2 linked regions of the Homo sapiens genome follow. The protein of the gene in region 2 purifies or fractionates together with the protein of the main gene of each other region. This does not show direct contact. Each region holds a gene or a part of one and is shown on either strand. Other genes may lie near its edges.

Region 1 (8,380 bases), on a different chromosome or scaffold from region 2:
TATACTCAACAACTAAGCATACACTCAGGGGAGGAAAAAAAAAATCAAAAACAAAATAAAACAAAAAAATTATGACACAAATGACCACATCTAGAATTCCACTCAATCTTTAATCAAGTAGGGAGAAGTCCCCACTTAAAAAAAAAAATATCTGCAGTTTGAAGGGCAAAGGGAACAGTTAAAAAAGAGGAAAACTTTATACTCGCCCCTCCCCCACAGAGGTTTTCCAAACCTGTTGTAGCTTGACTAAAATGTTCAGAATGTATGATTTTAAAGGCAGGTCTCTTTATACAAAGAAACTGCTGGCATTCTTGACTAGTGAAGAATTATGGCAGAAAGGCCCATTCTTCTGAGTCTCAAACATGGTCCAAGAAAGCATATTCTGATTGTAGCAACTGACCAGTCAATCCAGAGTTCCACTTACAAAACCCCTGCCCTGTTGGCTTTTTGTTTCCATTTCCTTCCCTGAGAAAAGGGCAATGTGTGGTCCAAGCTGGAGAGCTCAAAGGCTTAAGTCTTTCCCCTAAATATATGATATCCCCTCCTCCTGCTCCATTGAATTGGCACTTGATGAGCAGAAGTCAAGTGTAAGAGGCTGATCTGTGTCAGTCATTCACAAGAGACCACTGCGCTTTGTTGTGGATTTTGTATGGGGGAGGGGTGGAGAACCAGTTTTTTTCAACAGGTACTGATCCTAGGCCGTTGCCATTATTATGAATCAAATTTTGCTTTCTTTGACAATGGTAACGTATCTTCCTTATCTTCATCCTCATCATCATCTTCATCATCATCAGGATAATCTACCAGACCCACGAGGCCTCCCTGTTAAGAAATAAGGATTATTTAAAGAACAGAAAATAAAACATATAAAAACACTGGTGTTTTCTGGCTGGAGAAAGAAAATAGATCCTACCAACATAGTAACGGTGGTTATTTCTGGGTGGTGGGACTGTGTTAAACTTCAATTCATTATGTTTACATATTTTCTAAATTTCCTGTAATAAACATGCATACTTTTTTACAATAAGGGAAAACTTTGAGTTAATTAGAATTAAAGCAAAAATTTTTTTTTTCCAAGTCGGAGTCTCGCTATGTCACCCAGGCTGGAGTGCAGTGGTGCGATCTCGGCTCACTGCAACCTCCACCTCCCAGGTTCAAGCAATTCTCCCTGCCTCAGCCTGCCGAGTAGCTGTGATTACAGGCGCCCGCCACCACGCCTGGGTAATTTTTGTATTTTTACTAGAGACAGGGTTTTGTCATGTTGGCCAGCCTGGTCTTGAACTCCTGACCTCAGGCGATCCACCTACCTTGGACTCCCAAAGTGCTGGGATTACAGGCATGAGCCACTGCACCCAAACTAAAGCAAAAAAATTTAAGTAGTTTATAATCCTAGCAAATTACCCAGGAGTTAGAAAATGAATGAAAAATGTTTGTTTCAAGACTTAATAGCATCTTAAAATTTTTTTAAACATAAAGTCTAAAATAGTATAAAAATGAGGCTGAGCATGGTGGCCTGTGCCTGTAATTCCAGCACTTTGGGAGGCTGAGGCGGAGGGATCACATGAGGACAGGAGTTTGAGACCAGCCTGGCCTGTTAATTAACATAGTGAAACCCTGTCTCTAATAAAATTACAAAAATTAGCCAGGTGTGGTGGTGCACATCTGTAATCCCAGCTACTTGGGAGGCTGAGGCACAAGAATCGCTTTAATCTGGAAGGTGGAGATTGCAGTGAGCTAAGATCACGCCACTGCACTCCAGCCTGGGTGACAGACTGAGACTCTGTCAAAAAAAAAAAAAAGTACCAAAATGAAAACTGCAGCAGATAAAGAGACCACCAGAAATGAGGGTAGACAGGCTTTTTCTATTTATTAGAGGTTAGGAAAGCAGTTCTACCCTGACTCTTCCTCATCATTTCATCTGGGTTTCCTTTTAGCCCTGCTCCTTCACCAGAAACCACTGCCGCTTGCTTTATTTATTTTTTGAGATGGAGTCTCACTCTGTCGCCCAGGCTGGAGTGCAGTGGCGCCATCTCAGCTCCCTGCAAGCTCCACCTCCCGGGATCACACCATTCGCCTGCCTCAGCCTCCTGAGTAGTTGAGACTACAGGCGCCCGCCACCACACGCGGCTAATGTTTTTGTATTTTTAGTAGAGACGGGGTTTCACCGTATTAGCCAGGATGGTCTCGGATCTCCTGACCTCGTGACCCACCCCCCTGGACCTCCCAAAGCACTGGGATTACGGGCGTAAGCCACCGCGCCTGGCTGCTGCTTGCTTTATTTCGATGCTAAGGGAAAAATTCACACTGCTCTGCTCTCAAGCCTGCCTCTTCATTTCAGCGTGTCTCAGATTCACTTCTTAGCCGTCAGGAGTCTCCAGCTCACGCCAGAAAAAAAAAAGACTGAATGGGCATTACGTGTCTGATTTAGATCAGTGATTCCCAAATGCCAGTCTTTTAACTGCTAGTCTGCTAGCCCAATAATCAATATATTATGTCTCAAAAGAAAAGGGTGGTTGGCATAAGGAGCCCCCAAAACTGGTTTTATTCTGAGATTGCATGTTTTCTACATTTTTTCTTAAGATTTTGTTCCTTTTTTTTTTTTTTTTTTTGAGATGGAGTCTCGCTGTTGCAGTAGCGATCTCAGCTCACTGCAAGCTCCGCCTCCCAGGTTCATGCCATTCTCCTGCCTCAGCCTCCAGAGTAGCTGGGACTACAGGCGCCCGCCACCACGCCTGGCTAATTTTTGTATTTTTAGTAGAAACGGGGTTTCACCACGTTAGCCAGGACGGTCTCGATCTCCTGACCTCGTGTCCTGCCCGCCTCAGCCTCCCAAAGTGCTGGGATTACAGGCGTGAGCCACCGTGCCCAGCCCTTGTTCATTTCTTATATGAAATGTTAGTGATAGTAGATGTTTAATTTTCTTAACAAACCTTAACTGGCAAAGTAAAGTTAGAAGTACCCAGATATTTAGATTATCATTTCCCCACAAAGGCTTTATCTGGGTATTAGTTAGGAACATTTATTCAAGAATAACTGAAAACCTTGAACATTTCTGTAAATGTTTTGACATACAAATTTGAAGTTTCAGTTCTAAAATCCAAAATACCCAAGTGAGAATTCACACTATATGCAGACTTGCATTGGTCATAAAAAAAACTTTCAGAAATTTCTCAACCTTTATATAAGTTCAAGCGGTGGGGGGGACTCATCCTCTAGTTCAGGGATGTTAAATCAGTTCTAGGTGGCAGTAACCAAAGGGAATCTTAGTCAAAATTATTGTTGAGAAAGCTTCAATTGGGAAAAAAGGGGGCAAAATGGGAGTCAAGAATGTACCTTTGTAGTAATAGCTGCCGTCTGAGATGTATTTTTAGGTACGGATCCAGGAGAGCCTGGAGATCCTGGGGATCCAGGTGATCCCGGAGAACCAGGCAGATTTGTTGTAGATGACTGGCTGGTGAGGTTAGTCTTCGTTCCACTGGACAGGGAAAGCTTGAAACTTGGGCTCTGCCGTCCAGAAAGGTTTGTTTTCAGAAGCACTTCCTTTTCCTCACTTTCTTTTACTAAAAATGAGAATACTGTCAATAGTCGTCCCCCATACTTCTTTTTTAAATTTCCCCAAATGAGGTAACACTAAAACACATTTAACTAGCTTACTACGCTGGGTAGAAACATTGAAGTTCAATTTATAAAAGAAGCTTACCAAAATACTAACCACAATTCCATTCATTGGATCTTACCCCAGAGAAGAATTGAAACCTTCAGAATCATATTTAGTATCCCTACCCTTCCTGAAATAGTATATTCCTTATTCAACTCAAATTAAGAAAACTTAAGTTTATGCCTACACAACACTGCTATTCAGTCACATCCCATAAAGCAATAGAGTCTTTAAACCGTATGCCATCACACCTTCCAAGCAAATAATCATTTTGTCAAGAAATAAGAATAAATCTAGAGTAAGAAAGCCTTAATTTTCTCTTGCCCATTTTTTTCCAACATACATTTCTTCCTTTCCATGAATTTACTTATTGGATCCATAATATCATCATCATTTTTAGTTTTGTCAGATGGAGACACTACAGCTTCTCCATCTTCCATGTCATCTTCATCTGTGTTAAACCACATCTCTTCTTCATCTTCTAGTGTTCTGGCATCTCTTCGATATCTGTGATTCCTCAAAATGGAACGCATACTATGAGTAGGGAAGAAAGAGTAAATACAATCATATATGGACTTAATTGTACTGTTACAGATGACTTATTAAACTTGTTAACATAGGGAATTAACATGAAATTTACAAATATTAAAGTATCAATGTAAATCCAGGTATTTAGATTAATGTACAAAATTTTAAATAATAATTTGTAACCTTAGTAACTTGTAAATTCAAAGCAAGTAATATAATCCTCTGATTTTATTTGGAACACATGAAGCCTCACTTCCACTGTTTGGTCTTTTTTTTTTTTTTTCCCTTATCTAGCCTGATACATGCCTGAGGTATTATACTAATAACCAGCCTAATCTTCAGGGAAACATTTATGTTGACCCTTACAGGAAGCTACAATTTCTATTTGCTATCTGCTGATTTCCCTGTTCCTTGTCAAGCCAAATAATATCAAATAAACAATAAAGCCACTACCATACGACTTGATGCTGAACGAATAGGTTTAAATATATGGTAATTTACCTGTCAAGTTTGGGATTATCTTGCCTTTCTCTTTGTTGTTCAAATCTCAGTTTTAATCCTTTAAATGTCTGTACATAATCTACATCTTCCAGTGCTTTCCAGTAATTTTCAATTACATGAGCAGTTAATGATTTTATATCTTCCTACAGAAAAGAATAGTAATGAAAAAATGATAGGAAAATGTCATTTTAGCAAGATGAGGCTTAATTTAATCAATTCATACCCACCAAAAATAGCTTAATTTAATAAAACTACATAATCTTAGAGATAACCAAACAATAAAAAATGGGAATAACGTACACTGGCTACTATAGTAGTCCCCAATTTATCTATGGGTCTTTTTTTTTTGAGATGGAGTTTTGCTCTTACTGCCCAGGCTGGAGTGCAATGGCATGATCTCGGCTCACTGCAACCTCTGCCTCCTGGATTTAAGCGATTCTCCTGGCTCAGCCTCCAGAGTAGCTGGGATTACATGCATGCACCACCACGCCTGGCTAATTTTGTATTTTTAGTAGAGATGGGGTGTCTCCGTGTTGGTCAGGCTGGTCTCGAACTCCCGACCTCAGGTGATCTGCCTGCCTCGGCCTCCCAAAGTGCTGGGATTACAGGTGCGAGCCACTGCACCCAGCTATCTATGGGTCTTTACAAAGTAAATGCCCAGGTCTTGCCCTAGGTGATTCTGATTCTGATGTGCGGGCTGGGTATGTGTATTTTTTAGAGATGGGGTCTCGTTCTGGCACCTAGGTTGAGATATAGTGGTATGATTATAGCTCACTGCAGGCTTGAACTCCTGGGCTCAAGCAATCCTCCCACCTCAGCCTCCTGAGCAGCTAGGACTATCGGCATGCACCACCATACGGGGCTAAGTTTTAACAAAAAATTTTTGTAGAGATGGGGTCTTGATATGTTGCCCAAGCTAGTCTCTAACTCCTGGCCTAAAGCAATCCTCCCACTTTGGCCTGCCAAAGTGCTGGGATTACAGGCATAAGCCACTATCCCTGGCCATGGACATATATGTTTTATTAATTAATTTTTATTTTAGGTTCAGGGGGTCCATGTGCGTATTTGTTATACGGGTAAACTGCGTGTCACAGGGGTTTGGTGTATAGCTTATTTCATCACCCAGGTAGTAAGCACAGTACCCAATAGGTAGTTTTTCAATCCCCACCTTCTCCTACTCTCTACCCTCAAGTGGCTCTGGTATCTGTTGTTGTTCCCTTCTTTATTTCCATGTGTACTCAAAGTTTAGTTCCCACTTACAAGAGAGAACACACAACAGCCATGCGTATTTTAAAAGCATGTCACAGGCCGGGTGAAGAGGCTCATGCCTGTAATCCCAGCAGTTTGGGAGGCCAAGGTGGGCAGATCACCTGAGGTCAGGAGGTTGAGACCTGCCTGGCCAATAGTGAGACCCTATCTCTACTACAAATACAAAAATTAGTCGGGTATGGTGGCGCATGTCTGTAATCCCAGCTACTCTAGAGGCTGAGGCAGAAGAATCGCATGAACCTGGGAGGTGGAAGGCGCAGTGAGTCGAGATCATGCCACCGCACTTCAGCCTGGGTGACAGAGTGAGACTCTGTCCCCACCCCCCTCCCTCACCCCCCAAAAAAAGCATGTTACAGAAAAGTTCTGGAGATGAATAATGGTGATGGCTGCCAACAATGTGAATGTTTACTTTAAAATGGTTAAAATAGCAAGTTTAATGTTTTATATTATTTTATCCCAGCTTTTAAAAAAGCACGACATCCAGGTACTGTGGTATGCACCTCCAGTCTCAATTACTTGTGAGGCTAAGGTGGGAGGATCGTTTGAGCCCAGCTGGGCAACATAGCAAAACCCTGTCTCTAAGAAACAAACAAAACAAAAAGCCATGCCAGATAAATTTGCACAGCATCAATGAGAACCACTAGCTTATTACATTACTAGAGAATAAAGAGTATTATGAAATTGGTCTTTAGAAATGTGTAAGTTAAGAAAAACACATTCAAATGCTTATCTGTCAAGTGTAGTTTTGCTTTCTTAAAATGATTACTGTGACCATCCTACAAAGCAGCAGTCCCTAACCTTTTTGGTTTCATGAAAGACAATTTTTCCACCAACTGGGGTGGGAGTGGGGGAGCACAGTTTCAGGATGAAATTGTTCCACCTCACAGTTAACCAAAGGGTTCATGCTCCTAGGAGAATATAATGCTGCTGCTGATCTGATAGGAGGTAGAGCTCAGGCAGTAATAATGCCTGCTTGCCAGCAGCTTACCTCCTGCTGTGCAGCCTGGTTCCTAACAGGCTATGGACCGGTCCGCGGCCAAGGGGTTGAGGACCCCTGCTATAACAGATTTGTAGCTGCTGAGAGGTAAGATGTAGCTTGACTCAAATCTCTCACAGGCTTTTAGTACTTTTTTTTTTTTTTAAATCTCTCCAAATATTATCATCTCAAGCCAAAATACTAGGTAATGCATATTCAATTTTCTCAAACAATTAAAATGAAAATTCTAATTAAAAATACAGAACCTACCACTCTAATAAATTCAAACATCTCTATTATGGCAGAGTTCATCAGATTGTAGCGGGATCCATTGTTGAGAAATGCTTTCACTACTGGTTCAAACAAAAAACTTTTCATTATGTAGCGGTTGTAAAACTCATCTTTTAATCCAATAATCTTTCTTTTAAAACGAAGGGCACCTGAAACACAGAGGCATGGTTGTTTAAATCACATACCACTCTTCCATACTTTAGACTTACCAAACAAAAATAACCATCAAACCAAAAAAAACTGTTTAACACATATCAATAATTATTTATGATGTTTGCACTTCCGGAACTGTGAACCTAAAGATAAGGATTATGAAAATGTTATCAGAAAAATGTCTTCTAAAAGTAGTATATGTCATCATAGAACACAAGTCTTAGAAAGCCAGAAAAATCCTGAAAATAAACCAGTTACTAATGACCAAAATGTAATTTACATCTAAAATAAGAGCTAAGACAAATGAATGAACCTATCACACTACTTAAGATGAAAAAATTCAACATGACCTTTTATATCCACCTTAATAGAAAAAACCAGTGTTTTATTAGGGCAATCCACTGTATAATTTGATCTTCAATATTTTTGGACACTCTTATTATTTTGCATTGTAGTTCATGGAATTTTATTTATTTGTGGATGTGGCTGTAGAAAGGCCATCAACCCACAAAAATCTGCATGACCCAAAATTTGCCTTGCCATAGTTTAAAAATAAATTTAGAGGATGTTATTTAAAATGTGGTCCTCTATGCTTATTGTAGCGAGTATGCTTTTTAATTTTTTTCTAGTTTTCATTTTCATAATTAATTAGGCTTTAACTTACAGATTAAAAGGTATATTTACATCTTGAGGTATGGGGAGTTACTTAAGTCACCATTCATCAAGACACAAATATACTCAGACAGCTAGACTTCAACAAAGCCCTCTTTACCTAAATGGAATTATCAGTAAGTTAATGCCCCAGTTATTGTAAACAGTGCAAAAAAGCATACTCACTTCATGCAGTCACATCGTCTTCGGTTGGCAAGATTAAATATTGTGTTTGTATTTTGGTTTCTTTGGAGATCATGGAAGTGGCTCGTTAAATTGCCAATTTGCTATTAATCAAGTCCTTCATGAGCAGGTAGCCAGGCAACCATGCTGACACGGTTTCTGGGTGGGAA
Region 2 (4,905 bases):
TGAATTCGTTGCCTTGCCTCTATAATTGTCAACGTTTGTTCAATTTCACTATTCCTACCCCACTCCACACACATCCATTTTTTTTTTCTGGAATATTTTAAAGCTTATCTCATACATTATTCATCCATAAATACTTGAGTATGTGTCTCTGACTAAAAGGACTTAAAATTTTAAATATAACCTCTGTGCCGTTATCACTCATAAAAAAATGAATACTTAATGTCACCTAAGTCTCCAGTCCGCATTTGGATTTCTCCATTTATCTCAAAGATAACTTCTTATGATCGATTTGCTTGAATTAGGATCCAGGCATTGCAACTGCTTATGTGTGTTAACTGTTTCATTCTAGAACAGGCTCCACCCCACGCTTTTTTTCATGACATTGATTTATTGGAGCAGCCAGGTCATTTGTCCTGTCGAATAGTCCATATGATGTATTTGCCTCATTGCTTGCTCACAGCGGTGTTTAACCTGTGCCTGTGTTTCGTGCACTTGCTGTAAGCTGGCGATGAGTCCAACCGCTCAATTAGATCCCGGCTGAGCTGCGTGTGGCAGAGATGCCTGCATGTGGCACTGTGAACCTCCTCTTAGATGCCTTCAGGAGGCATGTGAGGTCTGGTGGCCCCACCTTTGCTGATGGGAGGATGGATGAGGGGCCCCAGTGGTGGCAGCCTGCCTCTTCCCTGATAGGTTTCCACTGCTCCTCCATCTTGAGGTTTTAGCGTCTGTTGATGGCCATTGCCTAGATCCATATTTAGGGTTGCAAAATGGTGCTGGGCTTTGGCTTACCCCTTTTCGTAGCATAATTCTCCCCATACCAGGCTCCCTTGCATCTTATGCCTGTCTCTTCCAGCCAGCAGGTAATCACATCTTCCCTGTTTTTCTGTACTTCCTAGCATAGTTGTGAACTTGATTTTTCAAAAAAGAAGGAAATGTAAGTACTTCCTGGACTGAGGGATGACTGAGTTAGGACTGATTGTCCAGTGTCTTGAGTCAGTGAAAAAAGCAGGCCTCAGCTGCAGAAGAGAAGGCGGCTTTGGTACTGGGGCAGGCAGCCATGTGGAGCACTGGCCTGGTGGATGCAGCACCTGGTTTGTGGCAGGGACTTGGGTGCCGACGAGGCCTCCTTCCTTAGTGGTCCCCAGTAGGCTCAGCCAGGTCTGTCCCTCTTCAATAGGAGAACCGTCGTCGGGCCAAAGAGGAAGCCTCTGCCATGGAGGAGGAGATGGCGCTGGCCGAGGAGCAGCTGCGAGCCCGGCGGCAGGAGCAGGAGAAGCGCAGCCCCCTGGGCAGTGTCAGGTGAGCTCCGGCCTTCGGGCTCTGGCTGGGGTGGCACCCATCCCAGGAGGCTGCCAGAGACCAGGCCCTGATGCAGGGTCAGGATTTATGGGAAGGTGCATGTGTGAAGGCAAACTGGTGACAGAAGTTGCTTGTGCATTTGGTGGTCACATGGATGTGTGGGAGGAGTTCCTGACAGCTTTAAAGGAGCGACAGTACACCTGCAGGGATTCAGGGCCTGAGGCAGCCTGGAGTAGCAGGATGGGTTTCACAGCTTTACTCATGAGCGAGGGGGTTGGAAACCCCAGTGCAGTGGTGAGAAGTGCGCCTTGGGCTTCTGCGTCTGTGCTGGTCCCTGGAGTTAGGCCAGACTTGACAGGTCGCAGGCACAGGCCTCCGTGAGAACGCCCTCACTTCAGATACCAGCTGCAGGTGTAGACACCATCCTTACTGGTGTCCCCATGGACCCCTGCAGGTTCAGTATTTGCTAGAATGACTTTCAGAACTCCGGAGAGTGCCGTACTTACCATTATAGCTTTATTATACCAAAAAGGTACAAATTAGAACCAGCCAAAAGGAGAGATGCATAGAGCAAGGTCTGGGAGGGTCTCAAATGCGAAGCCTCGTTTGTCCTCAGGACCACGTCCCCCCGTGGCACACTGATGCATGACAGTATGACAGGTTATTGCTAGCCAGGAAGCTCACCTGAACTTCAGTGTCCAGAGTTCTTATCATTGGGGTTCTGTTACTTAGGCATGAATGACTGAATCATTGTCATGTGGTAGAGCTCAGCCTCCAGTCCCCCCTCCTCCCCAGAGGTGAGGCTGATAGCACGTGGCTCAGAGCACCAGTGCTAACCCCGGGGCAGAGAGGCCAGCCTGCCTTGAGTCATGTTGTTAGATAAACTCAAGGGGTTCACCAAGAGTCACCTCATTAGCATAATCTCTCAAACGAGGGCTGAGGGGCCCCCATGAATAGCAGACACTCCAGTCACTTGGGAAATTCCAAGGGTTTAGAGTTGGCTCCTAGGCACTGGGGACAAAGGCAGGCTGCTACACAGTTGGAGTGGCGCACGTGAGGTGGAGGGAAGCTGCTTTTGTAGCTCCCCTAGGGACTGTGGGAGGAGTTGTTAAAATCCGATCTAAAGCATATCGGAATGAGTGAGCTTCCTTGATTACATCGCCAGTCGAACATGGGGACGGCAGAGGAGTGAGAATGTGCCGGGGAGGAGATCCCTCGGCCCAGAGCTCCCCACCATGGGTTAGGAACAGTAAGTCCTGGGGCTCTGCATCCTCCTGCCCTCCTGGCTGTGGGTGAGGGCACGGTGTTTCCTGATCTCTCCTGCTGTGTCTCCAGGTCTACGAAGATCTACACTCCAGGCCGGAAAGAGCAAGGGGAGCCCATGACCCCTCGCCGCACGCCAGCCCGCTTTGGTCTGTGAGCTGAGGCTGTCCCCAGAGAGGATGGCAGCAGGTATTGGGTCCTCAGCCTTCTGGCGGGAGCCCTGAGGCTGCGGACAAAGCCCTTTCATCTGAGGACTTTCATCTGTGCATATCACGGCCCCCCAGGGCAGTTCCTGCTGGACCAGACTCTCTGGCAGAGGAGGTGGAGTTCTTCCATGCAGGAGCACGGCATGGCGGGAGCGGGGCTGCAGAGTATCCGAGGTGCTGCCGGGGCAGCGGGAGGTGGCTGGACCCATCGCATCTAAAACTGGCCCAGGACACTTGGTGTATGCGTGACTTGGCTGTGGCTGTCTTTTTTAATCCTTGTGTAAAGCAGCAAAAAAGACCTAAAGGGAATTGTAATTTGGTTATAATTCAGGATTTGGAAATAAATTTATTATTTGTAAAACATGACTGCATGTCTGACTTTTTCCTTCACCCTCTTAAATCATGTAATAAAGGTGGGGGGTGCAGAAGCCTGCCCTGACTTCCTTTGCATGGGTCGTCCTGGAACTCTGCCCTTATTTCTGCACAAGGCAGACCAAGCTCTGAGGGTGCCCAGCTGCTCCTGAGGCTGGGGGGCACTGGCAGGTCTGCCTTGATGGCCAGGTCATGGGAGGGAAGTGCGCAGGAGTCCACCCCAGCCTTCCCTGGGGTGGTTTGGCTGCTTGAAAGAGGTCCATGTGATTGCTCTGGATGGCAGAGGGTAAGGGTTGTCCATTGACTGAAAAACAGTGTAAAATGTTGCTTATTGATTTTCACGTAAAAGGTGACCCTTACACCAGAATCACCAGTCTTTTCTCTTTTTAAGCAGTCTCTTAAGTCTGCTGAGGTGGCTTTTTGGGTGTTTGGCCCTTTCCACTAACCATGGTGTATATGTTGTGATTCCTCCAGGCTGGGCTTCTGCCAGGTGTGCTGGTTGGCAGGTTCTGTGTTGGGGTTGAGTCACAGACAGGATTGGGGCTCGGAAGCACCTTGATACCAGGCCAGTGCCGGCGTGAGCCCTGTGGTGCGTGGCCTGCTGTGCTGTTCTGATCCCTTTCTCCCTCTGTTCCTGGGATTTGCCTTTCCATGTTTTATAACTCAATAAATGTTAAAATGTAAGTCAATTTTGTGGGTGAGCTCAGAAGCCTAGCTTTGCCAGCCAGCACCAGCTACCACCTCTGCCTCCATTCTTCCCTCTAGCCCCCTTGGGGGAATGCAGGTGGAAATGGGCTTCTCAGGGCTCTGTAGTGAAGAGAGGGCTGCCAGCACTTTGCCTAGGAAGCATTCTAATCTTGGCCCTAGGTTGGAGGACTAGAAGTTGGCTGATGTGTGACCTATTTACAGAATCAGGCAATGGAGTAGGAAAAAGATTGAGGTTCTACTTAACAGTTATTATTAATAAGCTGTGACCTTGGTCACAAACTCACTAAGTCCCTTAGATAAAAAAATAAGGTCAGAGAGGCTATTAAAACAATGGGTCCAACTCAACCATCGTATTTACAAGCAAGGAACACCTGGTAAAGGATACTTGGTACATGTGGGTGCTACAAGAGGAATGGAGGGGTCCCCTGCCCACAGCAGCTCCCCCTGAATTTGCCACGGTACTGGAGCTTCTGCTCAAGGCTCTGTCTCTTCCTGTGTTTCCAGTGTTTTTTTAAATTACAGATCCTTTCCATTCCGATCTTCCTTAAAGTTCCTTCGAGCTTTAATATTCTGATTCTCACTGTCTTTTCTTCAGATGGCAACTGATTGTTTTTCTAGAGGTACAAAAGCATACCTATGACATGGTCTCTAGCACCATGGCCCCGTTGTGGACTCCTGAGTCTGGCTGACCCTTGTTATTGTCTGTATTTTTTTAGTGTAACCATCCTAATGGCTGGTATCTCATTGCAGTTTTGATTTGCATTTCCCTAGTATTTAGTGGTGTTGAGCATCTTTTCATGTGCTTATTATTGGTCATTTGTTTATCTTCTTTGGAGAAATGTCTCAAGTCCTCTTCCCCCCCGCTTTTTTTTTTTTGCATTAGTAACTTTTTAAAAATTTTTAAATTTCAACTTTTATTTTAGATACTGAGGGTACATGTGCAGGTTCATTATATGGGTATACTGTGTGATGTGGTAGGTTTGGGGTATGGATCCCATCACCGAGGTAGTAAGCATAGTACCCAACAGGTATGTTTTCAACCCATTTCCCTCTCTCT

What was found.
Region 1: the proteins of DHX38 (region 2) and PPP4R3A purify together in Homo sapiens (co-immunoprecipitation; 3 studies listed by BioGRID and IntAct, with this or other methods). This does not show direct contact.

Annotation. Positions count from the first base shown.
Region 1 is NC_000014.9:91,458,048-91,466,427, forward strand, and holds part of PPP4R3A (serine/threonine-protein phosphatase 4 regulatory subunit 3A), read right to left. Parts: intron 8,370-8,380; exon of another isoform or gene 8,214-8,369; intron 7,373-8,213; coding exon 7,203-7,372; intron 4,831-7,202; coding exon 4,688-4,830; intron 4,193-4,687; coding exon 4,002-4,192; intron 3,561-4,001; coding exon 3,334-3,560; intron 823-3,333; coding exon 712-822; 3' UTR 1-711. UniProt on the Homo sapiens protein: Regulatory subunit of serine/threonine-protein phosphatase 4. May regulate the activity of PPP4C at centrosomal microtubule organizing centers.
Region 2 is NC_000016.10:72,109,779-72,114,683, forward strand, and holds the end of DHX38 (pre-mRNA-splicing factor ATP-dependent RNA helicase PRP16), read left to right. Parts: intron 1-1,177; coding exon 1,178-1,299; intron 1,300-2,634; coding exon 2,635-2,719; 3' UTR 2,720-3,134; downstream 3,135-4,905. UniProt on the Homo sapiens protein: Probable ATP-binding RNA helicase. Involved in pre-mRNA splicing as component of the spliceosome.